4 separate regions of the Homo sapiens genome follow, and regions 1, 2 and 3 are each linked to region 4. The links come from fine-mapping of genetic effects on gene expression. A gene starts in region 4. Each other region holds a variant in brackets. All regions are shown on one strand. Distances are between the middles of the regions.

Region 1 (7,791 bases), 870 kb after region 4:
TCTCAAAAAACAAAAAAACAAAAAAAATCCTCTTTCCCTGGCTGGGATTCTCTCTCTTTATGCACCCTTCAACTTACACCTCTATGTGGCGTGGTCTATTCCATGGAGAATGCTGACTGATGGTACTTCTTCTCCACAGCCTCTACTGACTGCCCCCACCAAGTTAATCCTTGACTCTTCCATATTTCTTCTCTGGAACATGTATACCTGCATGTGTTTACCTATAAACATTGGGCAGCAAATTTACATTGAGAGACTAGAATACAACAGACACTCTGTGAGGGGCTTCACATATAAAATGCTCCAGGGCAGCATGGAGTACATAGTTGGTGGAAAATGCCAGGATCACAGGTTGTGCAGGGCGTCATGGGAGGATACAGGAAAGGCCACTCCATCTGAACCAGACTTCCTGGAGTAAATGACTCATTTGATCTGAGATTTGAAGGACAAGGAGAAATTAGCTTAGCTAACAAGTTGAGGAAAGGTGAATTTCAGGGAAGGAAAGCAGTACCTGAGAAGGCACACAAGCCTAAAGTTTGGCTGCAAGAAAACAATATATGTCATTTATCAAGCCTATCATGCTGCTTTGTTTTCATAGCCAGCAATGCAAAAATTGAGGAAAAAGTTTTCACAAGCATAGTCAATGAAAACTGGATGAGGACATGCAAAGCTTTCTCACTTATTTGGGGTTAAATAAGAACCCATTTTATCCAAAGCTTTTCCAAATTGTTTTCTGGAAGTTGCAATGAAATTAAATCTGATTCCCCAAATCTCCTTGTGGGGATCGTTTAGCAAATAAAAAATGTCTAAGTGAGTAACAATTTCCTTCCAAACTTCCAAATGAAATTTTTTGCTATAATGTCACAAAAATTATTACCTGAATTTATCTTGCAGGCAAATTAGATGATGTTTTACATTCTTTCCCCCATGAAATCACTTTCAAGAATTAAGTCAGAAAGAGAAGAGGCCAATTTTAGCAGCAATTTGCTCTTGCTGTAGCTGGATTTTGGTTAAAACTGCCTGAAGTAAACTTAATACACACTAATATCAGGATCCACCTCTTAAAATTTCAGGTTCCATGTACAAAATTCCAACTGAATCTGCCAAATATGCAAAGCCCCAGTGAAAGGTATTAGTTTTGACAGTGTGAAGTTATTGGTAGCTTAACACTCTGAAAATGAAGTACCTATATTCTTTGGCCAAATATCTTTCCTTGTGATAACTTGGAAACTTCAGGATAGAACATGAGAACTTTGCCATGAGCATTCAAGTTCTCACAAAGCAAGGCATGTATTCTAATACTTTCCATGGGATTGACAACCTTGATAATAATATGAACAATTCTCTTAGATTGCCAGGCAGGGTTTTGGATGCTTAGCAGTGAATACCTGATTTTTTTCCTGTCAAATTCCTCACTGTGAATTCCACATTATTGGAGCAATATTAAATGCACATTCTTATCAAGTTTTTAAAAAATTTAATTATTTTATTTTTTTAGAGGCATGGTCACTGTCTGTCACCCAGACTGGAGTGCAGAGATAACAATCATAGCTCACTACAGCCTCAACCTTCTGGGCTTAAGCAGTCCTCCCACTTCAGCCTCCCAGGTAGCTGGCACAAGTGGCATACATACAACACCATGCCTGGCTAATGTTTTTATTTTTTTTTGTAGGGACAGGGTCTTGCTATGTTGCCCAAGCTAGTCTCGAACTCTGGGCCTCAAGTTATCCTCCTGCCTCAGCCTCCCAACATGCTGAGATTACAGGCATGAGCCAGTACACCTGGTCCTGTTATCAATTTTTAATATCTCATTTGTTTGGAAGAATTTTGACAGAGCTTCAAAGATATTATCAGGTTTAGTTGTAGCACCAAAGGCTTGAGAAAACAGCTCCTTTTATTCTGCATCCTATTTAACCACAAGTCATGCAGAAACACATGGTGTAGCCCAAAGTTCTTGGGGGAAATCATAAGATGCATCAAACTAATGATAAGAAAATGCAGGCCGGGAGCGGTGGCTCATGCCTGTAATCCCAGCACTTTGGGAGGCCAAGGCAGGCAGATCACCTGAGGTCGAGAGATCGAGACCATCCTGGCCAACATGTGAAACCCCATCTCTACTAAAAAATACAAAAATTAGCTGGGCATGGTGGTGCATGCCTGTAGTCCTAGCTACTCGGGAGGCTGAGGCAGGAGAATCACTTGAACCTGGGAGGCAGGGGTAGCAGTGAGCCAAGATCACACCACTGCACTCCAGCCTGGCCACAGAGCGACACTTCATCTCAAAAAAAAAAAAAAAAAAAAAAAAAAAGAAATGCAATGATTTGATCTTTTGCAGAACTCAAAGTGTGATGTCAGCAGGTAAGACATTCTAACGTGTGACTGTAGATTAAAAGAAACATTCTGGAATAGCTTCTACATATCCACTCAAATAAACTTGTGGCAGCACTCAGAACACATAGTTCTTTGAAAATTTCTTCAGCATTGTGAAATTTTCTTCTCCAGTGATTAAAACGGCTAGTGATATGGTTTGGTTCTGTGTCCCAAATCTCATCTCAAGTCGTGATCCCCATGTGTTGGGGAAAAGGCCTGGTGGGAGGTGATTGGATTGTGTCCGGAATTGATGGGTTCTTGGTCTCACTGACTTCAAGGCTGAAGCCGCGGACCCTCACGGTGAGTGTTAGTTCTTAAAGACTGCATGTCCGGAGTTTGTTCCTTCTGATGTTCGGATGTGTTTAGAGTTTCTTCCTTCTGGTGGGTTCGTGGTCTCACTGGCTCAGGAGTGAAGCTGCGGACCTTCGCCGTGAGTGTTTCAGCTCTTAAGGCGGCGCGTCTGGAGTTGTTTATTCCTCCCGGTGGGTTCGTGGTCTCGCTGGCTTCAGGAGTGAAACTGCAGACTTTCGCGGTGAGCCTTACAGCTCATAAAGGCAGTGTGGACCCAAAGAATGAGCAGAATCAAGATTTATTGCAAAGAGCTAAAGAACAAAGCTTCCACAGTGTGGAAGGGGACCTGAACGGGTTGCCCTGCTGGCTTGAGCAGCCTGCGTTTGTTCTCGTGTCTGGCCCCACCCATATCCTGCTGATTGGTCCATTTTACAGAGAGTTGATTGGTCTGTTTTACAGAGAGCTGATCGGTCTGTTTTGACAGGGTGCTGATTGGTGTGTTTACAATCCCTGAGCTAGGCACAAAAGTTCTCCACCTCCCCACTAGATTAGCTAGATACAGAGTGTTGATTGGTATATTTACAAACCCTGAGCTAGACACAGAGTGCCGATTGGTGCATTTACAAACCTTGAGCTAGATACAGAGTGCCGATTGGTGCATTCACAATCCCTTAGCTAGACATAAAGATTCTCCAAGTCCCCACCAGATTAACTAGATACAGAGTGCCCACTGGTGCATTTACAAACCTTGAGCTAGATACAGAGTGCCGATTGGTGCATTCACAATCCCTTAGCTAGACATAAAGATTCTCCAAGTCCCCACCAGATTAGCTAGGTACAGAGTGTCGACTGGTGCATTCACAAACCCTGAGCTAGACACAGGGTGCTGATTGGTGTGTTCACAAACCTTGAGCTAGGCACAGAGTGCTGATTGGTGCACTCACAATCCCTTAGCTAGACAGAAAGGTTCTCCAAGTCCCCACTAGACTCAGGAACCCAGCTGGCTTCACCCAGTGGATCCTGCACCAGGGCCGCAGGTGGAGCTGCCCGCCAGTCCCGCCCTGTGCCCACACTCCTCAGCCCTTGGGCAGTTGATGGGACTGGGCGCTGTGGAGCAGGGGGCGGTGCTCGTTGGGGAGGCTCGGCCGCCCAGGAGCCCATGGCTGCACGGGGAGGCTCAGGCATGGCGGGCTGCAGGTCCCGAGCCCTGCCCGGCAGGGAGGCAGCTAAGGCCCGGGGAGAAATCAAGCACAGCGCCTGTGTGGCGGCACTGCTGGGGGACCTGGCGCACCCTCCGCAGCTGCTGGCCCAGGTGCTAAGCCCCTTACTACCTGGGGCAGGGGGGGCCGGCCAGCGGCTCCGAGTGAGGGGCTGCCAAGCCCACGCCCACCCAGAACTCTAGCTGGCCCCCAAGCAGGCAGGCATTGCCTGTTCCCGCCCACACCTCTCCCTCCACTCCTCCCCACAAGCTGAGGGAGCCAGCTCCAGCCTTGGCCAGACCAGAAAGGGGCTCCCACAGTGCAGCGGCGGGCTGAAGGGCTCCTTAAGTGTGGCCAGAGTGGGCACCAAGGCTGAGGAGGC[G/A]CCAAGAGTGAGTGAGGGCTGCGAGGGCTGCCAGCATGCTGTTACCTCTCGGGATCATGGGGGCAGATTCTTGCCTTGCTGTTCTTGTGATAGTGAATTAGTTCTCATGAGATCTGATGGTTTTAAAGTGTGAAACATCCCCCCTCACTCTGTCTCTCCTGCTGCCATGTAAGACGTGCCTTGCTTCCCCTTCACCTTCAGCCATGATTGTAAGTTTCCTGAGGCCTCCCTAGCCATGCAGAACTGTGAGTCAATTAAACTTTTCTTTATAAATTACCCAGTCTCAGATAGTTCTTTATAGCAGTGTGACAACAGACTAATACAGCTACTTTATACAAAATCTTTACAGCCATTACATCTTCTGCATATGTTCCCATATTAATATTATATATGCAGAGAATTGCACTCTATAATAATAAAGCCTACCCATATAAAAATAAGGTTTATGTAAATTGGATTTAAATGCATTAAAGCTAAGCGAGGGCTACATAGTTCCTTTGACTGGTGTTTTCTTCACATGAAACACACTGAGGAAGTTGAATCCCTGTTGCTTGCAATATACCTGGATCTAACTTTGATATATAAGTAAGTCTCATCAGATTTGTGTGTTTGGGCTGCCATCTTCAGCTGCCTTATAGAAGAAAAATATTAATGAGGGGTATTTTCAAGAATGCCAAGCTGGTTTTGAAGAGTAATTAGTGCTGCTAATGGCAGTTGCTACATGACTGCCTGGTTTCTTCTCATATCTGAACCTTATAAGCACATTATTTGTTCATTCTATGAGTACAAATATGTTACAGGTCTAAAATATGCCACCCATTAGAAACCCAAACGTCAATATCATGCAATATACCATGTAACAAACCTGCATATGTGCTCCTTGAATCTAAAATAAAAACTAAGTCTGGATACATTGGCTCACATTTGTAATCCCAACAATTTGGGAGGCAAAGAGCGAGGATCACTTGAAGCCAGGAGTTCCAGACCAACCTGGGCAACATAGCAAAATTCTCTCTCTACAACTTTTTTTTTTAACAAACAGCCAGGCATGGTGATGCATGCCTGTAGTCCCAGCTACTTGGGAGGCTTAGGTAAGAGGATTGCTTGCATCCAGGAATTTGAGGCTGCAGTGAACTATGATTGCACCACTGCATTCCAGCCTGGGTAACAGAATGAGGCCCTGTCTCAAAAAATAAAATAAAATAAAATAAAATAAAATAAAATAAAATAAAATAAAATAAAATAAAATAAAGTAAGATGCTACCTTCTAATAGAGACTTAGGCTAGGTTTAAAATATTTTTTATGATTCTCTGATTTTTGTTGTTGTTGTTTATTCAGATGGAGTCTCGCTCTGTCACCCAGGCTGGAGTGCAATGGCACGATCTCAGCTTACTGCAACCTCCACCTCCCAGGTTCAAACAGTTCTTTCGCCTCAGTCTCCCCAGTAGCTGGGATTACAGCCACCCGCCATCATGCCAGACTAATTTTTGTATTTTTGTAGAGACGGGGTTTCATCATGTTGGCCAGACTGGTCTTGAACTCCTGACCTCAGGTGATCAGCCCGTCTCAGCCTCCCAAAGTGTGATTTTTAAATTTACTGTTGGACTGAACTCCATTGTTAAACAATATAAAGATACATAAAGAAAAAAGAATCATTCCCCCAGCCTCTCTACAAACTAATCCCTCTGATGTAAATCAAGTTATCCATCTACCCTATTCTTCATGTACCTATAAATGTATTCATACTTACATTAACATACACACAAACATGCAATGTTTTTATCTTATAAAATAAAATGGTATTATATTGCACATTTTCTTGCAACTTGCTTTATCACTTAACAGTTTCTCATAGATGATCTAGCTGGTCCATAGATGGATATATAACTCATTTTCATTTTAAAGAACACCATAAACTAAGATTCTGATTTAATTTGCATTAAAATAGAGAAGTTTTTTATCATACTATATTTCCATCCAGTAACATGGCATAAGTTTTCATCTATTAAGGTTTACTTTATATTCTTCAAGAAAAAAGATTTGCATATAGACACTGTAATTTTTTATTAAATTTTTTTAGAGTTTTTTTTCTTGGCTGTTGGGAAGAGGGCTTTATTTTCCATTTATATTTAACTACTTTTTGTGAGTATGGTAAATTATATTATTTGTCATTAACTACTCCCTCCTTGGTTAGAGGACTATACATTCATGCATGTTGGGTATAATTTACAATACCTTCAGAGATGAAGCATGCTTCCTCCCCCAATTTGGGCTGGCCATGGGATTTGTTTTGGCCAATGAATGTGAGTGGATGTGACACAAGTACATCCAAACAGAAACTTTAAATCAGCTCTGTGATTTCTTTTGGCCTCTTGAGCTTCTGCTCCATGACATGGAAATGTCCAGGTAGGGGCTACTTCTTCAGTCTAGATCCCAGAATGAGACAGCTTGTGAAGCAGACCTCCTACTGACCTCCTACACAGCATGAAGCAGTGTAGCAGCCAACTGTGAAGAACTGGGAAGGGTCTCATATTTCGCCTTACTTTCAAGCCAACATGTTAACTTGCCAGTTTCATGGATGCTGAATGAAGACACTTGGGTTAGAGACAAAACACTTGATTACAGCAAAAGCAGTAGTCAGAATGTCAGCATGTCTGTTTTGGTTCCCTGAGTCTTCATTTTCAGTGATGATGTGAATAGGCCCAGATGGATGCCTGAACAAATGCTGGGTTGCGCTACAGGAAAGGAATATAGAACTTAAATTCCCATGATTTCATAGCAAGTAGTGAGCAAGCCAGCTCTTTGTCCCAGAGGTAAAAATCACCTCCTCCCTCGAGGTTGCTTGTTGTAAACATAACCCTGAGAAAAGGCTGGGTAGGAAATGATTAGGCCCTTGCATGCTTAGCACACCCAGCAAGATGTGTAGGAAAAAGAGTAACATATGGAGGAGAGTTTCCCAACACCAACCATCAGCCCTCATGTAAAGTTAGTGAGAAATAAACGTTTGCTCTTGTAAGCCACTGTGGTATGATTGTTTTGATACACAACAAAGTTGTAGCTAGTACAAATTACATTATATTTGTATATTTATCTTATATCTTGCCACCTTACCTAATTCTCTTATTTTAAAACATGTTCTAATACAGTTTTGTGGGTTTTCTAGGTATAATAATGTCTTTGCAAATAAAATGAATTGCCCCCTTTCCCAAGCATTTATATTATTATGGTTTATTTTGGGTTTTTTAAACCTTCCGGGTTAGCCTAAATCCCAAAACTATTTTGAATAAAACGATGATAGTAAATATGCCATTTATTAAGTTATTGTGTCTTACTTCCAAAGCCAGCCTTTGTTACTGGGCTGGTAATGCCTGGGCTAGAACTTCAAACCTTATTTTTGCTTTGCAAGTTGGCTCCCATTAAACTGTGCTGATAGAGGTGCTTCACGGAGCTCACAGGCTGAAGGAGGAGGAAGAGGCTTGTTCCTTCCTGCATGTTTTTTTGGGGGCTCCCTATTTGCCTCTTTTTCATATGAGTGGCATCCCACCAAT
Region 2 (7,791 bases), 140 kb after region 4:
AGAATGGAACTTCCTAATCTGATATAGAATATTTTAAAAATTTACAGCAAACATCATACTTAATGTTTAAATTTTGAAAGCTATTCCTAAGATTGAGAATGAGACAAGGATGTCAGTCACCATGACAACTCAACACTTTACAGGAAGTCCTAGACAGTGCAACACGCAAGAACAAAATTAAAGGTGTAATGATCCAAAACCAAGATATGAAACTGTCATTTTTTTTTTTTTACAAAAAAACAACATATAATAAACTAATAGAATTAATGAATTTAGTAAGGTCAAGTGAGTACAAAAGCAATATAAAAATCAATTGTACTTTTTATGTCAGCAATAAACTGTTAGAAAATAAGACTTAAAAGTGATCTATTACCATAGCCTCAAAACACATCACATATGTAGAATTAAATGTAACGAAGATGTGCAAGGCCTTACACAGCAAACTACAAAACATTCTAGGGACAAGTTAAAGAAAACCGAAAGAAATGGAAAGGTATACCTTGCTCATATATTAGAAGTCTCCGTTCTCCACAACATTAATTTATAAATTCAATGCAATCCCAATTAAAACCCTGGTAGAGGCCGGGCACGGTGGCTCACGCCTGTAATCCCAGCACTTTGGGAGGCCGAGGCGGGCGGATCACGAGGTCAGGGGATGGAGACCATCTTGGCTAACACGGTGAAACCTCGTCTCTACTAAAAATACAAAAAATTAGCCGGGCAAGGTGGCGGGGGCCTGTAGTCCCAGCAACTCGGGAGGTTGAGGCAGGAGAATGGTGTGAACCCGGGAGGCACAGCTTGCAGTGAGCTGAGATAGCCCCACTGCACTGCCTGGGTGACAGAGCAAGACTCTGTCTCAAAAAAAAAAAAAAAAAAAAAACAAAACCCTGGCAGATTCGTTTCTGGAAATGGTCAAGGCTGATCCTAAAATGTGTATGGCATCAAAAAGAACTTAGAACAGTCAAAAGTATGTTGAAGGAGGGTAAAGTTTGAAAACTTCTATCAGATATCAAAACAGATATCAAAACTTACCCTAAAGAATGCTTGTCCAACCCACAGTCTACCAACTCCAAGCGGCCCAGGACGGCTTTGAATGCAGCCCGACAGAAATTTGCAAACTTTCTTAAAACATTATGAGATTTTTTGCTGTGATTTTTATTATTATTATTTTTTAGCTCATCAGCTATTGTTAGTGTTAGTGTATTTTATGTGTGGCCCAAGACAATTGTTCTTTCAATGTAGCCCAGGGAAGCCAAAAGATTGGATGCCCTGCTGTACAGCTACAGTAATTTAATATTAATATAAAGATACAGACAGAACAATTGAACAGAATAAAGACTAGAAAAACATCTAAACATATTACTAATTATCTAAACATATTACTGATTTTCAGTAATGAAAACCAGTTAACTACTGACACGTATTACCTATATGAATCTCACAAACAATGTTGAATGACAGACTGAAGACAGAGGTTATACATTCCATTTCAAAATTTCAAAAACAGCAATCAAGACCAGTGTCAAAAGTTAGCATAGTGATTACTTCTGAATACTGTTAGAAGATAAACTCAGATAACCAGGAGATTAATGAGAAAAACAATAAAAAATGGCAGTAAGCATTGAATCAAATTACTTATAGGAGGCCAAGACTAATATAGGGATTATGATTTGAAAATTGAATGTTGGAGTTGTAGACCTTGATAATAGAATAGATACATAACTATCTATATAGAGAGAGGCTGAGGTATGAGAATCGCTTGAACCTGGGAGGCGGAGGTTGCAGTGAGCCGAGATTGTGCCACTGCACTCCAGCCTGGGTGCCTCCAGCTAGAGTCTGTCTCAAAAAAAAAAAAAGTTATGAATAACTGTGCACCAGATAACAGAGCATCAGCATTCACAGAGAAGAGCTATAGGGGAAACAAGAAAAAATATAGAAAACACTGCATCTTAATTATTTAATTCATGTGTTTTAGTTCATTAAACATCGAGGACCAAAATTAAGTAAGACTAAAAAATACCTAAATATCATAATTGATAAGGTAGAAATATGTGTGTGTATGTCTGAACATAACAACTCATTGTTTTTTAAGTGGCAATGAAACATTCATACAATTTTTCCATAAGGCCTCAAAGAAGACTTCAGTGAATTCTCAATGGTAGTGAATATAGACATTCTCTGATCACAGTACACTAAAGTACAAAGCAGAAACCAGATCAGGAACAAAAATTCTACTGCTTTGATGTTAAAAACCTCTCAACTCAGCTCTTGAGTCAAAAAGGAAAATTTGGCCAGGCACGGTGGCTCACACCTGTAATCCTAGCACATTGGGAGGTGAGGAGAGAGGACCACTAGAGCCCAGGAGTTCAAGATCAGCCTGGGCAACATGGTGAGACCTAATCTCTGCAAGAAATTTAAAAATTAGCGAGAAGTGGTGGCATGCACTACAGTAGTCCCAGCTACTCCAGAGGCTGAAGCAGGAGGATCACTTGAGCCCAAGAATTTGAGGCTGCAGTGAGCTATGATCACACCATTGTACTGCAGCCTGGGTGACAGAGCAAGAGCCTCTCTTGAAAAAAAAAAAAAAAAGAAAAGAAAAGAAAGAAAAAAAAGAAAAGCTTGGCTGACATTACTGAATATATAAAAAAACAAATGATAAGAAAACTCTATCAGAACTTATGGGTGCTCAGAAGAAAAGGTATAGCCTTATTTATTAATAAATACATGACCTAACTTAAGAATATACTAAAAGAACATTAAAAATAAACCCAAGGTAAGTAAAATAAAATAATTTGTAAACATAAATTTGAACTTAATTAATTAGAACACAGAAAAATGGTCTAACTAATAAGTTGACTGGAGAGCTGGCTCTTTGAAGGAAAAAATTAACGAAATAGAAGGGATAAACTGTTACCTAACTTGTCTGGGTCAATGCAAAATGTAAATATTTTAGTGCTTCCTTATTATTATTTAATAAAATCTGTGATGTAATTATATAAACAGGCTTGAAAAGTTGCCTCTTGGGGTTATTTAATGTTCACTTTCTTATCTCTAGCAAAATTAACCAAAGTTGTGTAGCTAGATGGCATATTGTTTTAATGGTCTCTGGAAAAGTGGATACACATTCAGAGCCAATTCTAGTGGGCAAAAACACATATTCAAAAATTAAACTTTTAACTTTTAGGGTGGCTCATTGGCTGTAATCCCAGCATTTTGGGAGGTTGAGGCAGGAGGATCGCTTGAGGACAGCAGATTGAGACAAGCCTGGGCACCACAGTGAGACCCCTTCTCTACAGAAAATACAAAAATTAGCCAGGTGTGGTGCTGCATGCCTGTAATCCCAGCTATTCCAGAGTCTGAGGTGGGAGGATCGCTTGAGCCCAGGAGTTCAAGGCTGCAGTGAGCTATGATCACACCATGGGACTCCAGCCTGGGTGATAGAGCGAGACCCTGTCTCTAAAAAATAATAATAACGAACTTTTAAGATTTAATTTAGACTGGACATGGTGGCTAATGCCTGTATTCGCAGCTCTTTGGGAGGCCAAGGCGGAAGAATCACTTGAGACCAGGAGTTGAAGACTAGCCTGGGCAACACATTAAGACCCCTATTGCAGTGGCCTGTGCCTGTGGTCCCAGCTACACAAGAGGCTGAGGTTGAGGTTGAAGGATGGTTTGAGCCCAGGAACTCACAGCTGCAGTGATTGCATGACTGCACTCCAGCCTGGATGACACAGTGAGACCCAGTCTCAAAAAAAAGAAAAAAAAAGAAATTTAGTTATACTAGGTTTAAAAGTCAAAATGATATTAAAAGATATATAATACATGAGAAATTTCACTCCCACCCTGTTCTCATTCACTCCATGTCCCACTCCAGGTCACTATTTTATTCTTGTTATCACTTCAGTATTTATACAAATATAAGCAAACTGGTATTTTATTCCCGTCTTTTCTTTAAAAAATTTTATTTTGAAATGATTTCAAACTTATAGAAAAATTTCAAGAATAGTGCAAAGAACTCCCATATATCTTTCACCCTGTTCCAGCTGACCACTTAGTCATTCTCTCACTTCTCTCTTATATGTGCTATATGTTTTATGTTTCAGAATGTATTTCTTTCAAAAACATACTCAGTTGCATATCTGCAGACAATGATCAAAATCAGAAAACTTAACTTGATACACTACAATACTACTATGTAGAGTCTGAATTCAAACCAAATATTTCCAGAATTTCCCTTTTACTAATTTAATTTTTTAAGGCTCCAATTCAGGATCATGCATTGCGTTTTCGTGTCTTTTCAGTCTCTTTGAATATGTACAGTTTCTTTAGTCTTTTTTCTTCCCACTTTTTGGTCTTTCATGACTTGACTTTCTTGAAGAGTTCAGGTCATTTCTTTTGCAGAATATCCCGCAACCCAAGTTAGGCCTATCTGATAAGATTCAGGTGAAATGCAGATTGTATCTTCTCAGCCTAGCACATCAGAAGGTATATGATGTGAGATTTTCCCTTATTAGTGATATTAACCTCATGAATCAAGGAAATGGCATCAAACTAATACCATTGTATTCTTCACGTACTTGAAGAAAAAAAAAGGCAATTTCATTTAAAAATGTCAATAATGAAGCAATACATTTTTAGTTTTCTCAAATTTTTACTTGTGTGTTGAAATATGAAGTGCACATAAAACATTTCTTTTCTTTTCTTTTTTCTTTTTTTTTTTTTTTGAGACAGAGTCTTGCTCTGTCGCCCAGACTGGATGGAGTGCAGTGGCACAATCTCGGCTCACCATAAC[C/A]TTTGCTTCCCGGGTTCAAGCGATTTTCCTGCCTCAGCCTCCCGAGTAGCTGGGATTACAGGCGTGTGCCACCATGCCTGGCTAATTTTTGTATTTTTAGTAGACACGGGGTTTCATGGTATTGGTCAGGCTGGTCTCGAACTCCTGACCTCGTGATCCACCCACCTTAGCCTCCCAAAGTGCTAGGATTACAGGCATGAGCCACCATGCCTGGCCACATAAAACATTTTTACCGTAGTATGATGATTATCTCGAGGAAGTTACTTTTTTTTTGAGAGGGAGTCTTGCTCTGTCACCCAGGCTGGAATGCAGTGGTGTGATCTCAGCTCACTGCAGCCTCTGTCTCCCTGGCTCACACGATCCTCCTGCCTCAGCCTCCTGAATAGCTGGGACTACAGGAGTGTGCCACCATGCTCAGCTAATTTTTGTATTTTTTGTAGAGGCAGGGCTTGGCCATGTTGTCCAGACAGGTGTCGAACTCCTAAGCTCAAGCCATCCTCCTGCCTCGGCCTCCCAAAGTGCTGGGATTACAGGTGTGAGCCACCACACCTGGCCAGAAGTCACTTTTTGAGTCACAAACTGAACTAGCTACTTTTTCATGGAGGATCATTTTTTATTTGAAAGAATTACGGACAATCTCTGGTTACTCAGACTCCGATAACTGGCAGATGCTTTCTCAAAAACAAATGAAGTGATCCTGTCACCTTAAGGGAAAGGACCAGGAGTATTTGTTAATGGCAAAATTCAGGCTTTCAAGAGAAAACTAGAATTTTAAAAACTTGTATTCACCACAATGAGCTGACAGCTTCTCAGTATTCAAGGCTGGTTGGGATGAGATTACTGGAAATATTAACAAATCTGATTTTTAAAATGTTGTATAATGAGATATGTCAACCTTTGGAAGGTCAACACAATGTGGTGAACCAGTTCGTATTAAAGGAGAGCAATGCGCGCGTGATAGTATACATGATGGATAAAAAAGCCATTCAAATTGCAAGATAGAATGGTGGGTTATAATTTAATAAAGCATGAAAAGTTCATTGATATGGTTTCAGATTCCACTTGTCACATTTTATTGTTATGAAAAATATCTATAATTATCTAAAAAGGTTATTAAAATACTCCTCCCTTTTCCAGTTACATATATGTGTGAAGCTGGATTTTCCCCCGTATTCTTCAATCAAAGCAACAGCTTGAATGTGGAAACAGCTACGAGAATCTTGCTGTCTTCTATTAATGCAGATATTAAAGAAATTTACAAAGTGTATAAAGTAATATCTATATTTTGTTTTAAAAAACTAGTTTTCATAAAATATTTATATTAATGTGAAATAGGCTTATTTTCAATTAATACATTAAAAATATGTAAAAAACTTTAAAAATAGTTTTTCCATTTTAATTTCAAATATGGTAAATAGCAATAGATAAAATCTGCATAAACACAACTTTTGAAACCCTTCATAATTTTTAAGAGGGCAAAGTGTTCCTGAGACCAAAAAGTTTGAGTACTATTGGTCCATGATGTAAGTTGTTGATTTTTTTGCCAGTTTGTCATTTTTCTCTCGATTTTTTCTTTTTGTCATATAGTCATTTTTTATTTTTATATAGTTGAATTTATTATTCTTTTCTTTAAAAAAAGTGTCTGGATCTTGACCTGTGGTTAGATCTTCCCTCACTCCATGGATAAAAAGGAATTTACCTGTGTTTTCTTATGATTCCATGTTTCACTTTCTATGTTTCTAAATATATAAAATATCTGTCCTACCCAGTTATCCCAACTTAAAAGTCATCTTTGCCCCACCGGCTTGTGATGACACCTTTATCACATATTGAATTTCCATATGTTGGTTCATCTTAGTACTTCCTGTTTATACTATTGGTCTATAATTCATATGCTCATGTTATACCATTTATTGAGACTTCATGGAATATTTTGCTAGCTTGTAGAACTTGTCTTTCTCCCTCCCCCATTACTTATCCTTTCAATAACTTTCTTGACTTATTTGTTCATTTTTTCATGTGAATTTTGGATCACCTACAGATCAGTTTCTCCTACAGGTTTTAGTTCTCATCCAGGGTCATTGGTGCCTTAGCCCAGGCTTTGCTGCTGGCAATACAACCAATAGATAAGGCTTGTTACTTATGCTCAGGGCTACGGGAAGCTGTGGCATATACAGGGACATGCCCTGTTGGCTCCTGCCCAAGTGCTATGAGAAGCAGGATAGTGAACATTCTGCTTGTGTTTGATTTGTTTATATTCGGCAGCAGAGGGTCAACTGAGTGGAATACAGCATTGATTATTATCTGAATTCAATGCAACTAAATGTAAAAATTCCACAAGCCTGAATTCACAGCAATGGAACACTTATCAATTTCAACTTTTATTTTAGATTCAGGGTGTACACGTGCAGTTTTGTTACCTGCGTATATTGTGTAATGCTCAGGTTTGGGGTATGGATGATCCCATCACTCAGGTAGTGAGCATGGTACCTGATAGTTTTACCACCTTTTCGCTCCTCCTTCTTCCCGCCCTCCTCTTCTAGTCACCAGGGAAGCTACTTCTTGACATGGTTCCATGTTCTCTGACTTGACTGATGGTCTGACCATCAGACAGCTGCTCTCAGATCTGAGAGATACTTTGTCTCTGAGATGCCCCGGGGATGAATATGATATATAAATGCATAGTTATACTTTTTGAGAACTTGGAATAGTTAGGCGTTAGGTTCAGCTAAATTGTTTCCCTGACTCTGAGTGTGATGAGAAATGAAATATTGTTTAGTGAGTGTTATTGACAATAGCATAGAATGAAAAGGTAGAAAAATTCAGCAAGTGCTTTGTTTTCTGTGGACTGTATCCCTCACTACAGCTTTATTATTATTGATACTTCTATTATTATTACTGATTTTTCTCTGTGGTGGAATGAGCTAGGATTAAACTTATAAGGCCTTAGAAACTGCATTTTAGCCACTGCTGGCATTGATGTTGTTTTAATTATTATC
Region 3 (7,791 bases), 44 kb before region 4:
TTAAAACAGTCTTTTGTGTGGAGCTTTGTGAAAGGCTTTTTGCAAATCTAAATAGATGCCATTCATGAGCTTTTGTCCCTATGCATATGTGCCTCCTAAAAGAGCTTTAATAGGTGGATGATGCCAATTTCCTCTCATTGAAACCATACGTTCTCCTCCAGCTCCTTCCTTGACTCTGGCAGTCATATTGGCATGCAATTATCTTTTGGAGGAGTAGGGCTCACAGCCCTTCCCTGTTGATCTGCTTTGATTGGGTCTTTAATTGGGTCTAAATTGGGTGAGATATTGTAGAAGAATGCAGGGTTAAGATCGCCAAAATCTAACTACCCTAAAAGAGACTAATCACTATGGTTAAGATAGCATGCTGAGATCAGAAACAGGGAAATATGGACGTATGTGTGGTAAATATGGGCAGAGAAAAGGAAGTAAGGTTAGAAATACAGGAAGTTGGTGGTTGTCAGTCAAGGGTCAGGAACGTTTTAGGGTCATGCCCTTTAAGAATCTGACACTGTTCTCCATTTCCCTTTTCTTTAAATTCTCTCCTCCTTCGATTCCCTCAATGCTGTGCTCTCAACCTAGCTTGGTAGATGTTCCTGCTCAGACTCCTTTCCTGGAAGCTCTTCTTCCTGTCTCTTTAATGTGGTTTTTTTCCAGGTTCCATCCTTGGCTTTATCTTGTCTCCCTCTATAGGTTCTCCACTGTCAATTTCATACATTCCTATGGATTTAGGTAAACATAGATTAATAGAATAAAAATGGGAATTTGAGCTTTAGGTAAGTCCATTCATCTGCCTAGTGTAGATTTCCACACTGATATCCCAGACACTCCAATCTTAACATGTCCAAAAATCAAAGGCATCATCTTTATATAAGCTAAGGACTTCTTCATTTTATGTGACAAAAAACCCTTATTTCATGGGCTCTAAGGAGAAGCCAAATAGCACAGGGATAGAGCTAGATTCAGAAACAACTCGAACCAAGACCTGGAAATTGCAATGATTTATTTCTCTTTTTTTTTTTTTTTTTTTTTTTTTTGAGACAGAGTTGCTCTGTCATCCAGACTGGAGTGCAGTGGCATGATCTTGGCTCACTGCAACCTCCACCTCCTGGGTTCAAGGAATTCTCATGCCTCAGCCTCCTGAGTAGCTGGGACTACAGGAGGGCGCCCCCACACCTGGCTAATTTTTGTATTTTTAGTAGAAAAGGGGTTTTGCCGTGTTGGCCAGGCTGGTCTCAAACTCCTGACCACAAGCGACCCGCCCACCTCGAACTCCCAAGGTGCTGGGATTACCAGTGTGCACTGCCACGCCGGGCCCATTTCTCCAAATTATACATCAACTTTCCTCTGAATGTCTGTTTCTTTCTCCCTTTGTTGCAGATTGATGATTTCTGCTGCTCGGCCTATGTGGTGGAAAACACAAAGATCTCCATGTTTCTGCTTTAGTCACCCAGAGTGAGACTAGTTTGATTCTGGGTCCTAAAACTCACTGGCCCAGCCATGTTCAAGGTGTCCAGCCATGGATCAATCAACTTTGGCCTCAGATACAGTGTATGCAACTTGAAGTTGCTTCATAGCTCACTGATGCTTTGCCTTCAACCTTTTTTCACTGTTTCATTTTAGATAGTTTTTATTGCTACATATTCAACTATACTACTCATTTCTTCTGCATTGTCTAAACTCCTGTCAATCTCAATCCCATCCAGTGTATTTTTCTCTCCCTTTTTTTTTTTTTTTTAGAGACAAGGTCTCACTCTGTGGTCCAGGCTAGGGTGCAGTGGTACTTTCATAGCTTACTGCAGCCTCAAACTTCTGAGCTCAAGCAATCCTCCTGCTTCAGGCGTCTGACTAGCTGGGACTACAGGTGGGTGACACCACACCTGGCTAGTTCCTCGTATTTTTTGTGAAAACGGCATCTCACTATGTTGCCCAGGTTGGCCTTGAACTCCTGGCCTCAAGTGATTCTCCAGCCTTGGCCTCCCAATTTGCTGGGATTACAGTTATGATGCCTGGTCCCAGCATATTTTTCACTGTAGATATTGCATTTTTCATATCTAGATGTTCAATTTGCTCAGTCTTTTCTGTAGACTTTAAACATGGAATATAGTTATAATAACTGTTTTTAATGACTTTGTCTATTAATTCTTTGACTAATGTGCATGCATTTCTGGGTTGTTTCTATACATTGATTTTTCTCATTATTGATTGTATTTTCTTTGTTTGCAGCCTAGAAATTTTTTATTGGATGCTAGACACTGTGAATTTCACATCCTTAAGTGTTAGTCTTCTATTCCTGTAAACATTTTCTTGAGCTTTATTCTGGGAAGCAGTTAAATTGTTTGGAAACAGTTTAATCTTTTTGAAGCTTCTCCTAAGCTTTGCTAGGCAAGATGAAAGCAGCCTTTATTCTAGACCACAGAGGAAATGCTCTTTAGAGTACTCTACCTGATACCCTGTGAATTACAAGGTTTTTCATTCAAGGATTATTCCCTCTGCTCTGATCTCATGGTTCTTTCTTGAGTCTTGAGTAGTTTCTGCACGCTCATGCGTGGATTAGTACTCAGCTGAAAACCTGAGGGCCCCGATCTCTGGAGCTCTCTCTCTGTGCCGCAGTCTCCCCTCTGGAACTCTGCCCTGTGAACTCAAGATGCCATGGCCTGCCTGGGCCCCCAGGCTCCACCCACGTTTCCCCTCTCTAAATGCTCTCTCCATGCAATGAGCTCAGGTAATCACAGGCCTCACCTCATTTGTTTTCCCTCTCTCAGGAATCATTGTTCTCTGCTGCCTGGTGTGCAGTGTCTGAAATCTGTTGTTTTACGTATTTTGTTTGTTTTTTCTGTCCTTTCACATGGGAGGCTGAATCCAGTCCCTGTCACTCCACCTTGGCCAGAAGTGGAAGTCCAATTGTCTTCAGGAACTATTTGCAGTTATTTAAACTCTGGGCTCTTGCATGTCTCTGCACTTTTATGTCAGTTTGACGTTTTTCCCTTCCACCCTGTCTGCCTGGCAAGACTCAGTTCAAGCATTATCTCCTCCCAAACCTGCCCAGCACTCATCCCACGTCAGCATCCCCTCTCCATGCTCCCTGACATCATATCCACAGTGTGGAGCTTGGTTCCCCTCACTGAACTCTAAGGCCTGTGTGCAAAGATCATGGCTTATTTATCATTTTTAAAATTGAAAAATAATGATATACATTTTTATGGGATACATAGTGACGTTTCATACATATAACGTATGGCAACCAGTAAGGGTAATTAGCATATCCATCATCTGAAACATTTAGCATTTCTTCAGTGGTTTTGTTTTGTTTTTTTCAGACAGAGTCTTGCTCTGTCACCCAGGCTGGACTGCAGTGATGTGATCATGACTCACTGCAGCCTTGACCTCCTGGGCTCAAGCCATCTCCCACCTTAGCCCCCAGAGTAGCTGGGACTACAGGCATATGCCACCATGCTGGCTAATGTGTGTGAGTGTGTGTGTGTGTGTGTGTGTGTGTGTGTGT[ATGTGTG/G]TGTGTGTGGAGACAGGGTCTCCCTATATTGCCTAGGCTGGTCTCAAACTCCTGGGCTCAAGCCATCCTCCCTCGCTGGCCTCCCAAAGTGGGATTACAGGTGTGAGCCAACGTGCCTAGCCTATCTTTGTTTTCAGACAGAGTTTTGCCCTTGTCACCCAGGCTTCAGTGCAGTGGCACGATCCAGCTCACTGCAACCTCTGCCTCCCAGGTTCAAGCGATTCTCCTGCCTCAGCCTCCCGAGTAGCTGGGATTACAGGTGCCTGCCACCACATCCAGCTAATTTTTTGTATTTTGAGTAGAGACAGGGTTTCACCATGTTGGCCTTGCTGGTCTCGAACTCCTGACCTCAGGTGATCCACCTGCCTCGGCCTCCCAAAGTGCTGGGATTACAGGTGTGAGCCACCACGCCTGGTCCCTATCATTTTTTTATACTGGGAACATTTGACATCCTCCTTTTAGCTTTTGAGGTTTATTCATCTTTGATTTCTGAACCTAGCACAGCAACTGAAACAGTAGCTACCCATCATATCCTTGTTGAAATGAATTGTTTCTTATATTTCAGTGGACTATTTAAAGTGAAACATTGGGTTGGGCACTGTAGCTCACACCTGTAATCCCAGTGCTTTGGGAGGCCAAAGCAGGAGAATCACTTGAGCCCAGGAGTTTGAGGCTGCAGTGAGCTATGATTGTGCCACTGCACTCCAGCCTGGGCAACAGAGTGAAACCCAGTCTGAAACAAAACAAAACAAAATCAAGTGAAACACTGTATATAATTACCCCGAAACAGAGAATAATCTTCACTGTTTATTCCAGAGTATTTTATAAACTGTTACCTGCAAAAATGGGCTGGAACTTAAACACTTATGTATTCTCAAGTTCTGATATTGCATTTCTTTGAATCAAGTATGTCATTTAGCAAAATTTTCTGAGGCGATTCTCAACAAAGTGGTTGTGTTAGAAGTATGTATGTTTGTAGCCTTCCCTTTAGAAGGGTTCTGGATTTTGGGGGCATATTTCTATGTAGTTTGGTTTGGTTACTTATGAGAAGCATGAAATCTTTTCAAATATTTACAACTCATGCTGTGCAGAATGCAACTGCAAAGTGCCAAGCAAACAACCTCATGTAGTGAAACCCTTCCTTGACTCAATAGCCAGGTATGGTGGCACACGTCTGTAATCCCAGCTACTCAGGAGGCTGAGGCACAAGAATCACTTGAACCCAGGAGGTGGAGGTTGCAGTGGTTTGAGATTGCACCAGTGCACTCCAGCCTGGGTGACAGAGTGAGACTCTGTCTCACGAAAAAAAAAAAAACATACAAAGTCACACTGTAATCTCTAGCACGGCATTATATCACATGTAGGTTTAATAAACTGTTCAGGGGAAACAGATGCCAAACTTTGAGGCTGGGCATGGTGGCTCACACCTGTAATCCCAGCAATTTGGGAGTCCAAGGCAGGAGGATTTCTTGAAGCCAGGAGTTCCAGACCAGCCTGGGCAACATAGTGAAGACCCCGTCTCTAAAACAAAATACAAAAATTAGCCAGCATGGAAGTACATGCCTGTAGTCCCTGCTGCTCAGGAGTCTAAGGCGGGAGGATTGCTTAAGCCCAGTAGTTTGAGGCTGCGGTGAGCTATGATTACACCACCGAACTCTAGCCGGGTGACAAAGCAAGACCTCTGTGGAGTCCTAATTAGGGAAAAGGAATCAAGCTGGCAGGACCAGGGGAAAGCAAAAAGAAGCAGCAGATAAGCTATCAGTCTGCCTTTCTTCATGGTCCAGGACACGTAGCCCTCCTGTGCAAATAACTCACAATCTCCCTGCACCCAACTATCAGAAACCTGCAAGTTAGCTCACCGCAACCTTGGTGTTATCACTACTGCACAGAGCCTTCCTCAGCATACAGCATACGCACTATTCTATACTATCCCCAGCATGCCTTTGTCTCTTGGAAGTCATCGGCTCCTTTGGGCTGGCCTGCCTGTTGCTCTCTTGCCGTGTATTTTCATACTTTCTTTAATAAATTTGCCTTTCTTTACCTACAACTGTCTTGGTAAATAAATTTTTCGTAACACCCACACCACCAGCTCAGATAGTTGCTGCTCACCGGTGACAACCCCGCTTCAAAAAATAAAATAAAATCAACTTTTACATGAAATTTGCTAGGAATGAGACCTGTGAGACTCCATCATGGGTCCTTTGTGGACTATACATGCTCTTATGCTAACATGTTTCCCCTCTCACCACATCACTGGGACACTCTGTGTCTCGCCTCAGCCTCCCAAAGTGCTGGGATTACAGGTGTGAGCCACCACACCCAGCCTAAAAGTTTGACATCTGTTTTTCCTGAGCAGGTTATTAAACCTACGTGTGATATGATGTGGTGCTACAGATTTCAGTGGGACTTCATGGCTTTTTTTTTTTCTGTACTTAAACCTACTTGAGGCCTCAATGCTTTCTTTTTTTTAACCTGTATAAAAAACTGACATAAATAGGTAAATAGGGCATGTTAATTATAGAAAAAACATTGTGTGTGTGTGTGTGTGCACACATGAGTAAATGAGTAAATATCACTTGCAATTAAACCACTCAGAGTGTCATTATAGCCTTTCGGTGTGTATCTTTCCTGCTACATATATACACACACACACACACATGTTATGTAGCAGGTACAATATGGTATAGAATATGAACTCATGAATTGATTCATGAATATAATATGATTCATGAATTCATATTCTATACCATATTGTACCTGCTACTTTTTGTAATCTGCTTTCCCTCATCATATCTTTCTAAGTCAACTAATATCTTTTTTTTTTTTTTTGAGTATTTATTTATTTATTTATTTATTTATTTTTTTCTTTTTTTTTTTTATTTTTTATTTTTATTGATCATTCTTGGGTGTTTCTCGCAGAGGGGGATTTGGCAGGGTCATAGGACAATAGTGGAGGGAAGGTCAGCAGATAAACAAGTGAACAAAGGTCTCTGGTTTTCCTAGGCAGAGGACCCTGCGGCCTTCCGCAGCGTTTGTGTCCCTGGGTACTTAAGATTAGGGAGTGGTGATGACTCTCAACGAGCATGCTGCCCTCAAGCATCTGTTCAACAAAGCACATCTTGCACCGCCCTTAATCCATCTAACCCTGAGTGGACACAGCACATGTCTCAGAGAGCACAGGGTTGGGGATAAGGTCACAGATCAACAGGATCCCAAGGCAGAAGAATTTTTCTTAGTACAGAACAAAATGAAAAGTCTCCCATGTCTACTTCTATCCACACAGACCCAGCAACCATCCGATTTCTCAATTTTTTCCCCACCCTTCCCGCCTTTCTATTCCACAAAACCGCCATTGTCATCATGGCCCATCCCCAATGAGCCGCTGGGCACACCTCCCAGACGGGGTCGTGGCCGGGCAGAGGGGCTCCTCACTTCCCAGTAGGGGCGGCCCGGCAGAAGTGCCCCTCACCTCCCAGATGGGGCGGCTGGCCGGGCGGGGGGCTGACCCCCCCACCGCCCTCCCGGACGGGGCGGCTGGCCAGGCAGAGGGGCTCCTCACTTCCCAGTAGGGGCGGCCGGGCAGAGGCGCCCCTCACCTCCTGGATAGGGCGGCTGGCCGGGCGGGGGGCTGTTCCCCCCACCTCCCTCCCGGACGGGGCGGCTGGCCGGGCAGAGGGGTCCTCACTTCCCAGTAGGGGCGGCCGGGCAGAGGCGCCCCTCACCTCCCGGACGGGGCGGCTGGCCAGGCAGGGGGCTGATCCCCCCACCTCCCTCCCGGACGGGGCGGCTGGCCGGGCGGGGGGCTGACCCCCCCCACCTCCCTCCCGGACGGGGCGGCTGGCCGGGCAGAGGGGTCCTCACTTCCCAGTAGGGGCGGCCGGGCAGAGGCGCCCCTCACCTCCCGGACGGGGCGGCTGGCCAGGCAGGGGGCTGATCCCCCCACCTCCCTCCCGGACGGGGCGGCTGGCCGGGCGGGGGGCTGACCCCCCCCACCTCCCTCCCGGACGGGGCGGCTGGCCGGGCAGGGGGCTGACCCCCCCTCCCCCCTCCCGGACGGGGCGGCTGGCCGGGCGGGGGGCTGACCCCCCCACCTCCCTCCCGGATGGGGCGGCTGGCCAGGCGGGGGGCTGACCCCCCCACCTCCCTCCTGGGCGGGGCGGCTGGCCGGGCAGAGGGGCTCCTCACTTCCCAGTAGGGGCGGCCGGGCAGAGGCGCCCCTCACCTCCCGGACGGGGCGGCTGGCCAGGCGGGGGGCTGACCCCCCACCTCCCTCCCGGACTGGG
Region 4 (7,791 bases):
ACTCCCCAAGAGGGATAATAAGCCTTCTTTAACAAAAGAGAGAAAAAAATCCCTTTTAAACAGGAGTCCTCATAACCAGGAAGAAAAACGTATTCATCTTAACCAAGTCTATAGCAAGGAGGGAGAAAGTTCCCCTAAACAGAAGATTTCATAGCTGGTAGCGGGGAAGGATGCCTCCCAACCAATTCCCAAATAAAACTGAACTAAACCAAAAGAAAAAATATGAGTTCAAGCCAACAGAGACTCACCATGGGGAAAAGAGGTGGCTCGTAGAAGTTTGGGGGCTCAAGAGGCCTGAATTTGGGTACTTCATGCCACATTCCAGGTGCTAATTCTCCAAGGTGAGCCTGCTTTGGATCCCACTTCTGACTTCAAGTATGTAGAAATCAAAATAAAATATAGAGATGAATCTCTAAACATCTTATTTGGGAATCACAGAATTGGAATTTGGGATATATATATATATATATATATATATATATATATGCACATACAGGTGGTCTTTGGTATGCTCAAAGAACAAAAAGAAGGTTGGTAGTTTATTAGAAGGAGAAATGTTATGTTTTGTTTTAAAAGAAAGCTCACTGCTACTGGAGAAGCTTTGGGGAGCTGGCAAACTCTGATTGCTGAAGACAGCAGTAGGTAACACTAGTCTATGAGTCACAGTAGGTCATTTCAGCAGCTACTAGGTAAAACTATTCTTATGGTTACAGCAGGCTGTTTTAGCAGCTGGGCTTGCAGAAAATTTAATTTTTGGAGCTGGTGCTATGTGCCCTGAGTGATTTTTCCCCCCACTCCTGGACTCTTTGAGTTAGTTGGGTATGACAAGAATGTCCTAATTTGTATAATCAACTATTACAAGTACTAATTATTATTATTATTTTTTGAAACAGGGTCTCCCTCTGTTACCCAGGCTGGAGTGCAATGGCACCATCTTGGCTCACTGCAACCTCTGCCTCTCGGGTTCAAGCAATCCTCCTGCCTCAGCCTCCTGAGTAGCTGGGACTACAGGCGTGCACCACTATGTCCAGCTAATTTTTTGTATTTTTAGTACAGATGGGGTTTCACCATGTTGGCCAGACTGGTCTTGAACTCCTGACCTCAGGTGACCCACTTGCCTAAGCCTCCCAAAGTGCTGGGATTGCAGGTGTGAGTCACCACACCTGACCACAAGTACTAATATTTGTCTTTAATAATAGTTAAAACTGATCATATGAATTTATATAGTGAAAGCAGTGAGATTTCACAAGAAAATATTAATAAATCTCCTAAAACCCTTAAAGATGTGTTATGCAAATCTGACTGCTATTGTACTCATTATTCTCTTTGAGATTTCTGGAAATTAAGCCCACAAATAAATATAATCAAATACTGAAACATATCAGACAAAATCATTTACAGGGCATCTGTGTAACCCATGGAAACAAGAAGCAGTTGATATTACAAAATGGGTGAGTGAACAGATACACGAGAAACATATGCCTTTAGCGTTTTTCCCAAAATATATTTTGTTGACCTTAATTAACAGACAAATGATCCATGAAATTCTAATTTTATTGTTTAAAATGGAGGATCCAATTTGTTAAAACTTGTTCAAGGAAGGCTCTACTAAACTTGAAGAAAAATAGAGTACTTCTGAAAATTTATATACATTTGATAAAATGTATACTAAGCCTCAAAATAAATGTACCTGGATTTTAAATTATTACGGTAAGAAACAGACATCATTCAATCTGAACAAAAACTCTGAGGTTTTCAAAAGTTTGCCTATGAGCACTAGCTTACCTGATTTTATTTATTTATTTATTTATTTATTTATTTGAGACATGGTCTCACTCTGTTACTCAGGCTGGAGTGCAGTGTCACAATCTTGACTAACTGCAACCTCCACCTCCTGGGTTGAAGTGATCCTCCTACTTCAGCCTCTGGAGTAGCTGAGACCACAGGCACACACCACCATGCCTGGCTATTTTTTTTTTTTTGTATTTTCATTAGAGATGGGGTCTTGCCATGTTGCCCAGGTTGGTCTTGAATTCCTGAGCTCAAGCAATCTGCCCGCCTCAGCCTCCCAAAGTGCTGGGATTATAGGCATGAGCCACTGCACCCAGCCTCCTTGATATGTTTATTTTACTCAGGTAAACTTTTATAAAACAGAAGAAGCCTGAATGTTTTAATAACAACAACAACAACAAAAAGATGCCAGAAAAATTTTAAACATTTTCACTATTTGAATAGATAAAACATTCTGAAATTTTGAATATCAAAAAGTTTAAATATGAATACAATGAAGTCTATTTCTTATGCTTTCCATCTACTGTGTTCTCATACCTCATGTTACTTTGTCCTAGTTTAATGCATATACAATTTAATACAATATTCTGTACCGTATTTCTGTGTTTTTCACTTAACAAAAAAATCTTGGAGATCTTAATGTTAAAACAAAGAACTTTCTGTTTTTTTGATTAACAGCTGCACAATGTTCAAACATATGGCTCTATCATAATTTAACTAGTATCCTGTTGATAGATACTTAGCTTGTTTCCAATCTTTTGCTATTCTCAACAATAAGAAACACCTTGTTATTTCTTATGTGTGGAAACATCTGTGGCATAAATCCCTGGAAATGAAATTCAAGGCTCCGAGTATATATGCATTTGTAATTTTAATACATACTGCCAAATTCCTGTTTCTTTATAGCCCAGCCAAAGTAGTGATGCCAGATATAATTTTGTTTTTTCATTTAAAAATATATAATGAAAAGTAGGTTACTTATTAAAGAACTAGGAAGAAAGTAGGACAAGTTTATGCAAAGTACAGACTACATTTTCACCTAAAAATACATTTAACAGGAATCTATTGTGCATCTACCGTATGCCAAGTGCTTTTAGGCACTTGGGATATACACACAAACAAATCAGACTCAAATCTCTGCCTGTGTGTGGAGCTTATATTTCAGTTCTACATTTTGGAACTCTCTGCTACTTCATAAGAAGCCAGTTAAATGTCAAAATCCTGAAAATGATCTGTTGAAATCCTGAGCACAGGCGCCAGACATATGCTACAAGTGTTATTTAAAAACTAACTAGAGGCAGTGTTACATATGATCATAGCTCTCCATCAGGTTCTTTTAAAACAACACACTAGCGAGAAAGCTCTTTTTATCCGCCTCCATCTGCTGTTGGTGGTGATCAGCATACTGTGGGCATTGTGGTATCATCCGAGATTAGGCTGTGAAATAGGAAGTGGGGTTACAGGCAGATCCGCAAGTGTATGCAAACTGTTGAGTTCTATCTCTTGCTAAAACCAAGGGTGCCCAATTCAGGTTTGGAGAGTAGGGAAAGTAAGGTTATCAGCGCATTCCTATCAGGGTCGTTTTCTTTTTTGCACTGCTCTTGTTCTGGTTTTATAAGGAGAACACAAGCAGAGTCTATGGAAAATAGTTGCCAAAGCATACAGGAAATACTCCTTATACTGAACAAATGCAAGAAAACAGAACGGGTTAGAAACCGAGGGAGACAAAAAGGCAGTGGGTGCCAAGGACTGTGAAAAGCAAATGCAACGATAGAGACAGCACAGTCTCAGGCTTATTTTTCAAAAATTCTCATTGTAAGCCTCTTTCCTTTCTAAATGGAGACTATCTTAACACTTTAGCTCGCATTAGACTTAATTTAATAAGAAGGTTGTAAACCACAGCTGTTAAAGTCTTGCCACTGCCCTACCGGATTCTTCGCATCCTGTAAGGCACAATTCGGAGTTCAGCTGGTTGATAAGGAAGCCAGGCATTGTGGCATCTTCAAGTACGAAGTGAAGCACAGGAAAGAGCCAACTCCGGAGAGTAGCTCTTCATTGCTTGAATCATACATATGCTTGTTTTTTCCCCCCTCTCCTTTCTGGTCTCTATTATTAACAAATATTTCATCCTGGCACAACAGGCACAATCAACAACTGGTTAAGGAATGAGTAGTTACTGAAGTCCCAACGCCTCTCAGTTATTTTTCTCACACTCACTGTATTCTAGACCTAGAAGCCAGCTCTCATTTGAAAGCTGAGGTTCAGAAGGGTGAAGTGCCAATAAATGGCAGAAGCCAGGTCTCTTTCCTGATTCCCATTCCAGCTGAGCTCCTCCTGCCACTGGATCACCATCAAAGACCTGCCAAAGCTGTTACTTCCGGGTTCGGTGCTGCCACAGTGCAAACGGGGATGACTTTGGACAATGACCCTGTGGCCCCCGCAGGGCTCGCACCCTCAGGCCCGTGGAAGGCTAAATGCTGACGGACTGGTTCTGCCCTGGAGCGGCTCTCCGCGTCCCAGGGGTCTCCTCAGTCCCGAGTGTGCACAGCGGGTCCTGCCACGTACCCTGGCGACCCCAGCAATGGACTCAGTGCCCCGGGTCCCTTTCCGTCTCCCTCAGGCGGCGTGCAGCACTTTTTCGGGTGTCCCAGTGGAATTTCCGGGCCCGTGAACGACTGACCCACGCCCGGCCGCAGCTCCAGGGGCCGACGAAGGGAGCGCTAGGGCCCACGGCAGGGCCGTCTTTGCCCGGGCTCCATTCCTGCCACCCTGGCGCTATGTCCGCCCTTCCCTGGTTTTCCCTACGAGCGTTTTTTTAACGCTTCCCACTCCTTGTTTACAAAGTGCTGAGCCCCCTTGACCGCAGGCTCCCGCGCCGGCCCGAGTTCCCACACCGTACGCTGGCTGCCCCCTATTCGGATCCCCGCCGGGCGCCGCACCCCCTAGCCACCCCAGACCGTCCCGGAGACCCGCGCCCGCCCAGCTCGCCCGGGCCATCACGTGAGCCTCCCGCCCCGCCCCCGCGCGTCACGTGAGCCCCGCCCCCGCGCCGGCGCGCTCCGACGTGCCCTGTAACTTACCCTCCCTCAGAGGCCAGCCTGCGGGGACGGGCCGGCCGCGGCCGTAGCCGTGTGAACGCTCTTCGGGCTCGCGTCGTCGACCCGCAGCCGCGGGGCGGACTAAGAAGGGAGCCGCCTGCTGCGAGGCCGCCGGGCTCCCGGTGAGGTGCAGGGCGCGGGTCCTGGCGGACGGAGGGCAGGTTGGCGAGGCGCTGCACAAAGGCGCGCCGGGGCCGGGCTGTGCCCGCCGAGGGCGGTGGAGTCGGGGGGAGGCGTGTGCGGGAGGCGCGGCGGCGGCGGCGGCGGCGCCGCGGAGGTGCGCGCAAAGGGAGGTCGGGCGCGCAGCGAGGGGCTCTGGGCGCGGGGGTTAGGCGCCGAGGGGGAGGGGGCCGGCGCAGCCTATTGGCTGACGTGGGCGAGAGGGTTTAAATGGCCCGAAGTTGTGGCTTCTCTGCCCCCTGGGTTTCCTGACTTCCTGTGTGAGGGCAGCGCCCGCCCGCCCCGCCCCCAGGGAGGAGAGTGTGAGGGTGCGCGGGTGTGTGTGTGAGTGCGGGAGAGTGCGCGCGTGTGTGCACAAGGCGGGTGTGTGCGTGTCTATGTGCAAAAGGCGGGTGTGTGCGCGCGCGTGTGTCTGCAAAAGGCGGGTGTGTGTGTGTGTGTGTGTGTGTGCGCAAAAGGCCGGCCCGGCCCCTCCCGCGCCCTGGGCCCACTCCCTAATCGCGGTGGGGCTTGCAGGCCTCCACCCACCCGGGGAGCCCACCCGGGGAATCCACCTGGGGCGTCCCTCGAGGACTGTTGACCTTAAACCGGACACTTTCTTCTTTGCGGTCTTTCCCGGTGCCCTGCCCCTGCTGGATGGACGTGCATTCGCTCCCCTCCAGCTTATCTGGGCGGAATCTCCTCAAAGTCCTTGAATTGAAAAATCCTCTTTACCAGCGTGCAGCCCGCCTCCCATCTCAGGGGAGCTGGTTGTCTTCTCAGAACGGCTGTCCTTTACGCGTTGCTATCTTAAGTGACTGCAGACCCTTTGAGAAGAAATGGCCACACGGTCTTCGTTAGAGAAAAAGGCACGCCCTTCAGCTTTCGAGGCGTGTGATGTTTTCCTTTTGACTGCAGCTGCAGTTTTGTAAATGTATTTTCAAAGGCTAAAGCACGACGTTGAAAGTACACCTTTATCGAAAGTTTTAATGTCATCCCAAGTGGAGTGTTTGTTGTGGATAGAGGCTTTTAGCACTCTAATAACACGATTGGTTGTGGCTGGCTTTTGGGTTAATCATGACATTGAGAAGTAGATTTTATCGACTATTTAGGCATGCGTTCCTAAAGGGAGGTGGTGGAGGAAGGAAGGCTCACTCGGGTTCTGATTCAGGTTCTGCCACCCGACTTCTAGAGGTTAGACCTTGGGAGACTCCGGGTGTTTCAATGGAAGTGTTAAAAATAAGTATCTAGCCCCTAGCCACGCCTCTTTCATACTTAAAAGTCGGGAACGATGGCCTAGATGTGTGTGTACTTGCCCATATCGCCTTTTCTTTATCTGTAGGAGGGTGTTTTACAGAATCGGTCATCTTCCTCTACCTCCTCTGGTCTGAATAGGCATTTTGGCTATTTTTATTTTGCCTTGGAAACGTTTCAGAGCTGGGTTTTGAGAGCCCAAAGCAGGCAGTGAAAGCGTGACCCCCACCCATGCCACCTGACGAGCCAGACCGTCTGCGCACATATGTGCGACCCCTGGTTGCATGCGGCTCCACTGTTCTAAAAGTGTTTCTCTGTGGGGGAAAAAGAAACCCCAGAAGTGTAATATAATGTGTGTATGTATATTTATGCGCCAATATTTGTTGATAGATTTCTGTTCGTACTTCATCAAGCTGGAGAAGACTGATGACTCATTGATTGTTAAGATAATGCCGTCTGTATAGTTAGTTATATATATATTAGTTGTTCATATATAATTATCAATACATTGCATCTCTTTCGGTTTTATATTTGCTAATACCAGTTGTTTCGAGGTGCAAATGAAAATAGATTAAGTGCTGTAGAAAAACAGCATGTTACTTGTAGTTAATCATTTGACTTTTCTTTAATTAGAAAGAATCTGCTCAGTGGTTTTTTAGTAGGCTGATAGAAAGTGAACTTTACAAATTTTTAAGTACTCTACGTAAGTGATATTACTGAAAATAATACGGGTGATTAAAATTTTTAAATGGAGTAAAAACTAAATAGTGGTGATCTGTTTAACCATTAAACAGTAGTACTAATATTTTACTTACCTGAGAAAATGGGCATCACAGTTTTACAATAAATCATGGGAGAGAAAAGTGAAATTAAACTTTTGTCCTGTATTTAACAATTTTGGCTAGAATTGCAAATATGCACTATTTTGTAGTATGAATCAGATGTGAAAGGTGTCGTAGTACGACATAGCATCACTGTACTTCAAATCGGGCTTTTCAGATTACCTCTTTTGAGGAACCTATTGGGCCACTATCCTTGTGGTTTTTTTTTTTTTTCTTCAGTTAGCTGGCCCCGGCTCATTGGTATATGGCTTTGCTGTGATTCAGCCATTTCCCTATTACTTTCATTGACTTCATGGACTTAATGAATATTCTGCAGTTTCGTTTTGTAATTGATTAGCTCTTTAATTGAACTGAACTGCCAAATGGTGTAGTCTCTAAGCCTCCTTCCCCTGTTGATAATCTAGTGCTTCTCAAATTTTAACGTGCATAGGAATCACCTGCACTTCTAATATCCACTTGGTCATATGGATGCTGTTCTGCCAGACCACAGACCACTGCTGTCCAATAGAAATGTAATGCCTATATAAATTACTTGTGCTTAAAGTTTCTAGTATTCACATTATAAAAAGTAAGCACGTGGAAAAAAAGTGAAATAAATGAATATATTTTACTTAGTATATTCACAATATCATTTTAACATGTAATAG

Alleles and levels. Positions count from the first base shown, and alleles are read on the strand shown. Sizes are in standard deviations (SD) of each study's normalised expression. Not every link is listed here.
For the expression in whole blood of the gene that starts at base 4,863 in region 4, allele A in region 1 goes with a higher level than allele G (moderate effect, 0.64 SD a copy in GTEx).
As copies of G replace ATGTGTG in region 3, the expression in monocytes after R848 of the gene that starts at base 4,863 in region 4 goes down (moderate effect, 0.54 SD a copy in Quach 2016).

The links.
Region 1: its variant is fine-mapped to the expression of ARHGAP12 in whole blood (GTEx, PIP 0.96).
Region 2: its variant is fine-mapped to the expression of ARHGAP12 in whole blood (TOPMed, PIP above 0.99).
Region 3: its variant is fine-mapped to the expression of ARHGAP12 in monocytes after R848 (Quach 2016, PIP 0.91).

Annotation. Positions count from the first base shown.
Region 1 is chr10:31,052,144-31,059,934 of GRCh38, reverse strand. All of the region lies in intron 1 of LOC105376481 (a long non-coding RNA gene), which reads right to left. Among named protein-coding and RNA genes, the nearest start is that of ZNF438, 24 kb to the right of the region's middle. The variant G/A (reference allele first, on the strand shown) is at 4,243.
Region 2 is chr10:31,782,089-31,789,879 of GRCh38, reverse strand. No RefSeq gene overlaps it. Among named protein-coding and RNA genes, the nearest start is that of MACORIS, 79 kb to the right of the region's middle. The variant C/A (reference allele first, on the strand shown) is at 4,793.
Region 3 is chr10:31,970,220-31,978,010 of GRCh38, reverse strand. All of the region lies in intron 2 of LOC107984219 (a long non-coding RNA gene), which reads right to left. Among named protein-coding and RNA genes, the nearest start is that of ARHGAP12, 45 kb to the right of the region's middle. The variant ATGTGTG/G (reference allele first, on the strand shown) is at 3,503.
Region 4 is chr10:31,925,903-31,933,693 of GRCh38, reverse strand. ARHGAP12 (Rho GTPase activating protein 12) reads left to right here and starts at 4,863. Exons shown (of 20, transcript NM_018287.7): 1 at 4,863-5,011. LOC107984219 (a long non-coding RNA gene) reads right to left here. Exons shown (of 3, transcript XR_001747415.2): 1 at 5,651-7,791; 2 at 4,872-5,032. RefSeq lists a silencer at 4,692-5,191.